Homo sapiens: one gene and its partners. The protein of the gene in region 3 interacts with the protein of the main gene of each other region in a pairwise test. Each region holds a gene or a part of one and is shown on either strand. Other genes may lie near its edges.

What was found.
Region 1: the proteins of THAP7 (region 3) and DLST interact in binary tests that used the Homo sapiens proteins (3 or more experiments, as listed by UniProt).
Region 2: the proteins of THAP7 (region 3) and TPM3 interact in binary tests that used the Homo sapiens proteins (3 or more experiments, as listed by UniProt).

Annotation. Positions count from the first base shown.
Region 1 is NC_000014.9:74,891,809-74,895,555, reverse strand, and holds part of DLST (dihydrolipoyllysine-residue succinyltransferase component of 2-oxoglutarate dehydrogenase complex, mitochondrial isoform 1 precursor), read right to left. Parts: exon of another isoform or gene 3,498-3,747; intron 2,723-3,497; coding exon 2,570-2,722; intron 2,209-2,569; coding exon 2,132-2,208; intron 1,245-2,131; coding exon 1,147-1,244; intron 1-1,146. UniProt on the Homo sapiens protein: Dihydrolipoamide succinyltransferase (E2) component of the 2-oxoglutarate dehydrogenase complex. The 2-oxoglutarate dehydrogenase complex catalyzes the overall conversion of 2-oxoglutarate to succinyl-CoA and CO(2).
Region 2 is NC_000001.11:154,171,429-154,175,175, forward strand, and holds part of TPM3 (tropomyosin alpha-3 chain), read right to left. Parts: intron 1,774-3,747; coding exon 1,656-1,773; intron 1,551-1,655; coding exon 1,480-1,550; intron 677-1,479; coding exon of another isoform or gene 601-676; intron 61-600; coding exon 1-60. UniProt on the Homo sapiens protein: Binds to actin filaments in muscle and non-muscle cells. Plays a central role, in association with the troponin complex, in the calcium dependent regulation of vertebrate striated muscle contraction.
Region 3 is NC_000022.11:21,000,177-21,003,923, forward strand, and holds the start of THAP7 (THAP domain-containing protein 7), read right to left. Parts: upstream 1,943-3,747; 5' UTR 1,736-1,942; coding exon 1,656-1,735; intron 1,236-1,655; coding exon 1,080-1,235; intron 612-1,079; coding exon 471-611; intron 257-470; coding exon 1-256. UniProt on the Homo sapiens protein: Chromatin-associated, histone tail-binding protein that represses transcription via recruitment of HDAC3 and nuclear hormone receptor corepressors.

The DNA of each region.
Region 1 (3,747 bases), on a different chromosome or scaffold from region 3:
TCCAACTCCTAAGCTCAAGCGATCCTCCTTCCTCACCCTCCCAAAGCTCTGGGATTATAGGCACGAGCCATGGTGCCCAGCGTCTATCCCCACTGAATTCCACAGTACAGTACTCTGTATACAGTACGCACTCAAAACACGTTTGTCAAATTTCTCTTCCTGACAGTGCTGATACTTGAACACATTGAAATCTTGAAGAAAACAGGTAAGTCAACAATTAGCTCACTACAGAAATGGGCATACCTAGTGAATTAGTACCTTTGGTTAACATTCTAAGGTTATTTAAAAACACAACTTGTTTTCCATTTCACTGTCAGAGCTGGGTAAAATGAAAGACAAGCCCAGCCTATCTTTGCCTTTTCATCCACTCGATTCTGAATCACTTAGGAAAATATGTAAGTGACGGGGTCAAACAATCCTCCCATCTCAGCCCCCCAAGTAGCTGGGGCTACAGATGTGCACCACCACACCTGGCTAATTTTTGTATTTTTTGTAGAGGTGGGGTTTCGCCTTGTTACCCAGCTGGTCTTGAACTCCTGGACTCAAGCAATCCGCCTGCCTCGGCCTCCCAAAGTGCCAGGATTACAGGTGTGAGCCACTACACCTAGCCAAGGCTAAGGTTAAGGTCATGGAGGAGGCAGGCATAGTATTAGGAAAGCCAATTAGAGAAGAAGCCAGCGGCTCACTCTGTGAAAGTTAACAATAAACAGGCCAGGCGCGGTGGCTCACGCCTGTAATCCCAGCACTTTGGGAGGCCGAGAAGGGCAGATCACGAGGTCAGGAGATCGAGACCATCCTGGCTAACACGGTGAAACCCCGTCTCCACTAAAAAAATACAAAAAATTAGCCAGGCGTGGTGGGGGGCGCCTGTATTCCCAGCTACTCTGGAGGCTGAGGCAGGAGAATGGCGTGAACCCGGGAGGCGGAGCTTGCAGTGAGCCGAGATCATGCCACTGCACTCCAGCCTGGGAGACAGCGAGACTCCATCTCAAAAAACAAAAACAAAAACAAACAAACAAAAAACAATAAACAAATACCTCTTCCCTGACAAGTTAGTTTTAGAATCAGCACTAGATAAGGAGTGGGGCAAGTTCGTGTTCTCTAAGAAAAAGGGGCCTAGGGGATAAGAGGGACTAGAGACACTACCTCATGTCAATCTCATTAAAAGTTGTCAGCATTGCACATGTATTCTGGGCCTCCTTCAGACGCTGAGCAATGCGCTGCCGCATCCTGTTCATTTTCTCCTGAAAGTAAGAGTGGAACAAGCATTGACAATCTGATCTCTCTGGGTCAAGCATTCCCCGTGTAGTCAGAAAGAACACGGCTTGCCACGAGTAGATGGCCAAGGACTACAGTATCTAAGTACACGAGCTCCAGGCTTCCCTTTCCTGTGGTGGCCCTTTCTCCTCCAAGCAAAAACATGCAAACACAGGCCAAAACTACTCACTCAGATGTGCCTAAAGCTTGACCAAGAATGAAGGCTCAGAAACAGTGATTTAAAAACCAAAACCCATTTATAAAAGAATGTAGTGTAGTGTAGTCTAGCCAACATAAGAATCATAAGAAAAAGGGCACTTTCTGTTGATAAAGATTTGCATAAGAATAGCTATTTGTGGAACAGAACCTCATGAGCAACAAACTTTCGAGGCTATCATATTTTTAGGAAGTATTCTCAGGCAGAGGAACCACAATCCTGACCATACTTCCTTGAGGCTTTATGTCTGCACCTGACAGCTATTGCTACTGAGTATTATCCCTTAGCTACAGCTAAGTATCCCAGAAGTATAGGAATAGAGCTCACTAAACCACCTCTCTGAAGCGTGTGACATCGTGGGAGGACGGGGGTGAGTTACTAAGCTACCACCCCTACAAATATTTAACTTACCCAAGGCTTTCACTGGTAGCATAATATAGTAGGAAAACCACTGAACAAGTGTTCAGAAGACCTCAGGTTCTAGTCCTATCATTTGATGGTTATGTGACTATGAAGAAGTTATATCCTAAACTCCCTTTATCAAGGTTGAGGGAATGAGCTGCCAGGCATTCAAAGGTAGGCATCACCACACCCATACTCCACTAATCTCAACACTGCCCCCTGCCTCTTTCCTGAAAGTGGTCCTCAGAGGCTTACCCGATGTTCTGAACGCAGACCTTTGCCAGCTCCTGGCTCAGCTAGTGGTGGGGCAACAGTGGGTTTTACTGCAGACACTGAAAATGAAAAGAGGATAAAGCTGCATCAGACAAGGAAAGAAACATCTGCTGAGTTTGTGCCAGTGCTTTCATATGTACTGTTACTTAATCTTCAAGATATTCTGAGGTATATTAGTATCACTCCAACTTCACAGATGAACAATCTGTTCAGATAAATTAAGTGACTAGCCTAAAGACACACAGCTAGTAACAGAAAGCTGAGATGCAAAGCAGGCCTTTGGATACAAAGTCTAGAATTCTTTCTACAAAGCAGCCAACCTGGCCTGTTCAGAACCATCATCAGTCTAGAGTTTACCCTTTGAAGGAACATATTAGACGAGATGTTCTCCCACATGACATGTGGGAGTTGGAAGCCTACCAGGTTTGCCAGAAGGAGGCTGTGAGGGCGAGGGCACCGGTGGCATCTGAGTGGGTATGGGTGCTGCAGGGGGAGGAACTGCCGCTGCTGTAGGTTCTGCTTTTGGGGCTGCAGCAGCAGGAGCTTCAGCCGGCTTGGCCTTAGCAGGAGCAGCTGAAAAACAAGAAAAGTATATGCCACTGGCACTGTCTGAAATGAGAAGCAACCAAGCAAAATTTAGTGGCAAAAACTCTAGCTCCAATCAAGTAACGAATGTCTACTGGGTATCAGCAATATGCAAAGCACTATGAGACACACACACAATGACATAAGGCACTATTCTCTAGTCCTCAGGGTCCCTAAATGTCCATCAGATAACTGGCTCAACTTAGCTCCCTTCCCAATTTCACAGGTTTCCACTGAATAAATTCAGCAAGTACTTTCAAAGCACCTATCAAGCCCAAGAAAATGTAAACTTCCAAGGAAAAAAAAAAACACCTAGGCAATTTAAAATATTGAAATGCATACATAAACATATTTCTAATTACTGATACTCTTCATCCTCTATTTTAACATTATATATGCAAGAATACTATTAAAAAATAGGCTGGGTGCAGTTGCTCACGCCTGTAATCCCAGGATTACAGGCCAAGGGATTACTCCCCTTGGGAGGCCAAGGCAGGCGGATCACAAGGTCAACAGATCAAAACCATCCTGGCCAACATGGTGAAAGCCCGTCCCTACCAAAAATACAAAAATTAGCTGGGCGTGGTGGCATGTGCCCATAGTCCCAGCTACTCGGCAGGCTGAGGCAGGAGAATCACTTGAACTCCGGAGGCGGAGGTTGTAGTGAATCAAGATCAGGCCACTGCACTCCAGCCTGGCGACAGAGTGAAACTCCATCTCAAAAAATAAAATAGTCATCGAGGGTTGACTTAGGCTTAAGAAAGCACTTCATCCAGGATGACTCATAAATCACTGAAGTGGCCAAGTAATAATCTCACAACTTTAAATGAAATGTTTGTTTCTGTTTTTCACCCATCTGGACATTATATCCAGGGTTAGTGCTAAGACAAACTTCTGCAACAGGAGGACTACCTTATTTCCCAGCCTTCTACCATACATGTTTTCTACTCTGAGCTTCTGGTCTTGCCTGACTAACCTCAATCATGCGGTCTATCTGCCTTATTAGTGTAACA
Region 2 (3,747 bases), on a different chromosome or scaffold from region 3:
TCAAGAGACTTGAGGTTGTTGGTGACATTCTTCAGCTCCTCCTCCAGCTCAGAACACTTACTGTGAATATTTTAAATACCACAGGAGAGGAAAAGGGAAAAGGAAGAGAATAAAAAAAGGGAGAGAGACACATAGACGTGAATTGAACCTATATGTAGAGAGAGTTGGAAGGCATACTGGGGAAGAGATGTTCCCAAGTAACCTGAGCAAGCATCAACCCTCCTCCCTCTACCATAGAACGTGTCAGGAGCTAGACCTTCCTGGGCTCAAAAATGTTTGAATACTAATAAAGCACTTGAGAGAAATCCACTACCAGGAACAAGTCATAACTGCTACCTGGGGTGGAGGTGGGAACAAATGCCCAACCCAAACAGTCCCCCAAATCACCCAAAGGAAGGAGACCCTGTGGAGAGGCAGTGAAGCAACTAGGAAAGAAGAGATGAAAGATGCCAAGTAAGTGGAAAAGAATGGAGCATTCCATGAAGAGATGAGACAGCACTCAACAAAATCAAGTGGAGGGGAGGCAGCTGCAAAACAAAAACAAAACAAAACAAAACCACACCACATATATAACCTTGCTGTGGGCTTAATGGTTAGTACCTTTTCTTCAGCAGCACTCAGACACTTCAGGTTCTGGTCCATCAGTCTAATCTGCTCATCCATCTCTCGGCAACGGCTGTTAGTGATAGTCACGGGGATGGCACAAGCCAGGTTGTGGGGAGGGAGAAAGGTCAAAAAGGAACACAGCAAGAAAACAAGCAGCAAAACGAAAAAAAAAAATTCAAAAAATGGGAAGAGAACACCACCATGGTCATGATATGTTATGTCTGGCAGACGGGAATGTAAGAGGGAAGCACAAATACATATGCATTCAGCACTGACTTTGTTAATCAAGGCCCAGAAGGTACCGACGGGAGAGCAGTTAATATCTACCCTTGCCCTAAGGTTCCCTAGCAGATTGGCAAAGTGGCCAAAACAGACACCAGATTTTTTTTTTAAATTTATTTGTTTTAGGGACAGGGTCTCCCTATGACGCCCAGGCTGGCCTCCAACTCCTGGGTTCAAGCAACCTTCCTGCCTTGGCATACTAAGTAGCTGGGACTACAGGTTTGAGCCACCACACCCAGCCAGACACTAGATCTTAAATCAGGATAGCCACTTTGATGTCTTCCACCCCAGGTGGAAGGACCCAGTAGGATCTTCCAATTAACTGTTCACCATGTATTAGTCCTTATTTGCTCTCAATTTGTAAACCCTACCAACAAAAAATAAGAAAGCCTCTTTTGTCACTTGTCACTAGTCAGGAGAATAAGGAAGCCTAAAACCATTCTTGGGCCTAAAAAAGCACTATAGATGACTCCCATTCCCTAGGCCCTGTTTAACAAGGTTGAAGGAATGCTAATTTATTCATATTAGTGCCCAAGCCAAAGGGGAAGGGATAAATTGGTAATGACAAGATTTGGGGAGCTAGATACTCACGACTCTGCCAGCTCAGCTCGTTCCTCTGTGCGTTCCAAGTCTCCTTCAATGATCACCAACTTACGAGCCACCTACAGGAAAAGATCCCAGTATAGCTTAGTGAAGCAAAGGAGCCATTTACCGCATTATGCTTTGTAAAAGGCCGATACGAGAGGGACTAACAGAAGGTCACTTACCTCTTCATACTTCCTATCTGCCTCTTCTGCAATGTGCTTAGCTTCTTTGAGTTGGATTTCCTGGAGTTCCATCTTTTCTTCATCTTTTAAGGCCCGGTTTTCAATAACCTTCATACCTCTGCCAGAAATAGGACAAAAGCAATACTGACACCCTGAGGAGTGTGTCGTCAGCTCCACTCCAAGGGTCTCAGAACTGTACTTTTAAAAGCCCACTCCTCTCTGTCTGCCCCTCAAATGGAAATTCCATGTTACTACTCCCACACCTTAGTTTAATTATTTCATTTAAAATTTTTTGTTATGGCTGGGCACAGTGGCTCACGCCTATAACCCCAGCACTTTGGGAGGCTGAGGCGGGCAGATCACCTGAGGTCGGGAGTTCAAGACCAGCCTGACCAACATGGAGAAACCCCGTCTCTACTAAAAATACAAAATTAGCTGGGCGTAGTGGCACATGCCTGTAATTCCAGCTACTTGGGAGGCTCAGGCAGGAGAATCACTTGAACTCAGTAGGTGGAGGTTGCGGTGAGCCGAGATCGAGCCATTGCACTCCAGCCTGGGCAATAAGAGCGAAACTCCGTCTCAAAAAAAAAAAAAAAACTTTTTGTTATAAAGGTAATACATCCTGGCCAAGCGCAGTGGCTCATGCCTGTAATCCCAGTACTTTGAGAGGTCAAGTCAGGTGGATCACTTGAGGTCAGGAGTTCGAGACCAGCTGGCAAACATGGTGAAACCCTGTCCCTACTAAAAATACAAAAATTAGCCAGGTGTGGTGGCAAGCACCTGTAATCCCATCTACTGAGGCAAGATAATCACTTGAACCCGGGAGGCAGAGGTTGCAGTAAGCCAAGATCGCACTGCTGCACTCCAGCCTGGGCGACAGAGTGAGACACCGTCTCCTCCACCACCCCCAAAAAAACTTATTAAGAAATTAAATACTAAAATATTAAATAAAAATATGGATATATACAGCTGGGCGTGGTGGCTCACGCCTGTAATCCCAGCACTTTGGGAGGCCGAAGCCGGCAGATCACCTGAGGTCAGGAGTTTGAGACCAGCCTGGTCAACATGGCAAAACCCTGTCTGTACTAGAAATACAAAAATTAGTCAGGCGTGGTGGCAGGCGCCTGTAATCCCAGCTACTTGAGGGAAGCTGAAGCATGAGAATGGCTTGAACCCGGGAGGTGGAGGTTGCAGTGAGCCGAGATTGTGCCACTGCACTCCAGCCTAGGGGATAGAGTGAGACTCTGTCTCAAAAAAATAAATAAATATTATTTAAATATATGTGTATATATATATATATATATATATATATATATATATATATACACACAAAAATCCCATCCCAGCTTCCCCAAAGTAATAATATACTAGACGGTTCTGCAACTTGTTTTCCACACTCTTTTTTTTCCCCCCGGTATTCAGCATGCAGCTATCCTCACTTTCTTTCTTTTTTTTTTTTTGAGACCAAAAAAAAGAGGGAGGCTCACTGCAACCTCCGCCTCTTGGGTTCCAGTGCTTCTCGTGCCTTAGCCTCCTGAGTAGCTGGGATTACAGGCGCGCCCCACCACGCCTGGCTAATTTTTGTACTTTTACCAGAGACTGGATTTTGCTGTGTTGGCTGGGGTGGTCTTGAACTCCTGGCCTCAAGTGATCGTCCACCTCAGGCTCCCAAAGTGCTGGGATTACAGGTGTGAGCCACTGCGCCCGGCCCTCACTTTCTATAATTTGCATGCTACTCTAATAGTATACACATAGCTGCCTCTTTCATTTTCACAGCTGCACAGTAGTAACGTACCCTTAGAAAGGCACTATTTATTCTGAAAACCCTTAGTTGTCAAGCACCTCTGTTCTAGTTTAACTCACATGTGGCAAGGAGACAACTGGCTATTTTCAAAAACATGAGTTATAATTTGTTTCAAGGGCCATGGTTCTCAACCCTAGGAACACATTAAAATTAGCTGGGGAAGGCCGGGCGCAGTGGCTCACGCCTGTAATCCCAGCACACTGGGAGGCCGAGGCGGGAGGATCACAAAGGCAGGAGATCAAGACCATCCTGGCTAATACGGTGAAACCCTGTCTCTACTAAAAATAC
Region 3 (3,747 bases):
GGGGGAGACTGGCCGTGGTTCGAGAGGGGAGGGCTGCCGCTCTGGTGAAGGCTGGGCGCTGCAGCCTGCTTCATCTGCCTGGGCACCCAAGGGGCCCAGTAGGTCTGAAAAGGGGCTGCTAAGGCCAGGCTCCAGCCTCCCAGCTGGGGAGGCCGGCAAAGTGGCAGGTGCTGAGGCCTCTTCCACAGGAAAGCAGGTGACATCAGCAGGTGGAGGTGGAGAAAATGGAGTTGTGGGCCCTCGGCCCTCGGAGCAGCTGGTAAGGGGGAAGAGAGAGACTGATGGGCTAGGCTGAGGGCTTGCCAGACCCCCCTCCACCAGCCCACCTGATCCACCCTTAACACCCAAACCCGATCCACAGGTTCTGTGTAGCAAGAACCCTGTCCAGCGAGACTGCTGGCAGACACCCCTAGGGCCCAGTCCCTCAGCCTAGGGGTGGGAGTGGGGCATCCCCCACCCATATCACATACCGCTTCCTGCATCGTCTGAGCCGGCTGACTTCAGCGGGGCCAGGTGGGTAACTGTGTCCTTTGGTCTTGGTTGTCCGGCGCAACTTGGAGAAAGACTCAAATATGGTGGGGACTGCCCCCTCCTTTAGCCTGTGATATCCACTGCGGGGAAAAGCAACCCAGATGAGCTGGAGAGCAAGTGCTGCCTCCCCAGGCCAATCTGCCCCCAGCAGCAGCGCCGTGGGATGCTGGAAGGCATCGTGCAAACAATACGTCTGGGGAACGCCAAGTTACAGCTACACCAATCGCTTCCCCGCAGGACTCCTCACAGTCCAGGTGTGTGGAAAGCCTGCATAAGCCGAGCTGGGCTGACCAGCCAGAAAGAATTCTTTGATTTGTGGACTTGCTGGCAAGACTGGGGCTCTGAAAGATACTCTCTGGAAAGGCTCCTGTTTTCCCCTTGTGTCACAGGCACAGTGATCCTGGGGGTGGGTTTCACTGTGCAGAGCTGGGAACAGGAAACAGCCCCCTTGGACGCAGGCTGCTCAAGGGACTTCCATGACCTGCAGCTGTCCCAGTCCGCCGGGAGCCCCACATCCTACCCCAGCGTCGGCCGGCAGGGAGGCCCACCTGATTCCCACCAGCTCAAAGCAGTCCTCCTCAAAGTGTTTGGAGCAGAAGTAGATGTACTCGGATGCCGGGTCCCACAGGCCCTGGCCGCTGGGGTCCAGCCGCTGGCAGTTGGCCAGCCACAAGCCTCGCCTCGGGTTGTCCTTCTTGGGAAGTCTGTGGAGCCACAAACCCGTGAGCACCAGGCTGTCCACAGCCCTGGGCTCATGCTGCCCAAGCACCCCAGAGGGGAAACGCAGACCCAACACGCGCCGCCACGAGACCTCCCTGCGACCCCGCCGGGTAAGCACCACCGCCCGGGCACAGACGAGGCAACGGAGGCCTCGAGAAGAAAAGCAGTTTCCTCAGCGTCATCTGGCAGGTAACAGAGTGGGGCGGGTCCAAGCCGGCTAGACTTCCCGTCCTCCCCTTCCCGACTGCATTCAGTCCCGCCGGGACCGTTCCGCTTCACCTCCCACCCACAGGTTCAAGCCTCCTCAGTATCTGAGAAAGGCGCGAAGCCTCTACGCAGTTGCGACCCGAGGCGAGCAACAACTAGCGCATGCGCACGTGAGCCCGCGGCGCACGCGCGCTGACCTGTGGAAGGAGATGCCGCGGTTGCGCGTCTCGCGCGTGTCCCGTGTGCAGCAGCCGGCGGCGGAGCAGTGACGCGGCATCTGGGAAAGAGGCGGGAGTTAAGTCGCAAGCGGCTCTCCGGGCATCCGGAGGAGCCTCGCGCCTCCAGCCGCCGCTCCTCCCCAAGGGGCTCTGGCCTGTCGGGTCCCCCCCGGCCCGTTGTCGCCCCAACCCCGTCCCAGCCGATTCTCTTGACTTCTGTCAGCGGCACTCACGCTCTGGCCATTGCTGCGCCGCCGAAGTCTCGCGAGGGGTAGCGCGCGCCGGAAGTTGGTACCATAGAGACTGGAGAGCCGGAGGTGCCCCCGCCACCGGGGCGGGGCGGGGCGAGGTCCTAGCTAGCTGGGTTAGTAAGCGGCGCGAGCGTGCGAGTTTCTGACGCGCCCGCGTCGTCCCAGCTCCCTGGACTACCAGTATTGTCGCCCACGTGGGCTTCTCTTTCGTCCGCTCAGGCCTCACTTTTCTCCGTAAACACCCCGGCACGATGGAGCGGCCCCAGCGTTCGGGAGCGGCCCGGGAGCGGAAAGCGGCAGTGTCCTGGGAGCCTCGAAAGCCGCAGGGGCGGCAGCTCGCCTCGGAATGACCTCTGACGGAAGAAATAAAACGGGGCCTGGGACGCTTGCACGAAAGAACCCGACAAAAACCAGAGCCCGCACTCACTCTCGTACTGGGGAGGTGGACTTCAGGGAGGGTTATCTGGAGGAGGAATCTCTCAAAGTACAACACAGGAGAAAGACAGTATCGCAATACAGAAATTTTATTTTTTATTTTATTATTATTTTCCTGAGACCGGAGTCTCGCTCTGTCGCCCAGGCTGGAGTGCAGTGGCGCGATCTCGGCTCACTGCAAACTCCGCCTCCCGGGTTCACGCCATTCGGCTGCCTCACCCTCCACAGTAGCTGGGACTACAAGCGCCCGCCACCACGCCCGGCTAATTTGCAATACGGAAATTTTAATAGGTAATTAGCTCTCCTAGCGTTATGGTGGGGAATACAGAGGGATGGTTGCCTGCCGCACCCTCCCCTCACTATTCTTCGCCTTCTTCAGCCTCAGCTTCCACGGAATCCATGCCCACATCTTCATAATCCTCCAGAGCTGCCAGATCCTCGCGGGCCTCGGAGAATTCCCCCACTGCCATGCCCTCCCCCACGTACCAGTGCACTAAGGCGCACTTGGCCGAACTTATGGTCCAGGCAGGCCCAGGCCTCCGTGATGGCCGTGGTGTTGCTCAGCATGCACACCGCCCGCTGCACTTTGGCCAGGTCTCCCACAGGGACCACCGTGGGGGGCTGGTAGTTAATGCCCACCTGTCAGAGATGGGCAGCATAGAATGAAGTTTATATTGGCCTCAGAAATGGGAGCTCATTAAAAATCAGAGCTGTGGACCAGTTCCAACACTGTGTTTTAAGAATTGCTTCTATATTTTTTGGCATTATCTGTTATCTATCGACAATTAATATCCTTTGACGACTTTTTTTTTTCTTTTCTTCTCCTTCTTCCTCCTTCTCCTCCTTCTTTGTTGTTGTTGTTGAGACAGGGTCTAGCTCTGTTGCCCAGGCTGGAGTGCAGTGGTGCAATCTCGGCTCACTGCAACCTTTGTCTCCCAGGTTCAAGCAATTCTCCTACCTCAGCGTCCTGAGTAGCTGGGATTATGGGCATGTAAGATGGAGCCCGGAAGACGGAGATTTCAGTGAGCTGAGATTTCGCCACTGCACTCCAGCCTGGGCTACAGAGCGAGACTCTGTCTCAGAAAAAAAAAAAAATTATTACCCATATTACCCATACAGTAAAACACATGAAAAAGAATGAGAACCCTGTCTTGGGATATAAATACATCCAAGGTATATTGTATACTTTGTAAAAAGAAAAGTGAGTTGAAGTCTATGTATTTATGTGTAAAAAAATCCATGTAATAACATACACAGGCTAGAACCTTGGGCAGCTAGGGTAGCATCATGCCGGAGGAGGACAAACGCCTGCTGAGGTGGTGACCCTGCCTTGCCCTGCCAAGCACGTAGCAGTTAGCACCAACTAGATACAGACACACTCCACA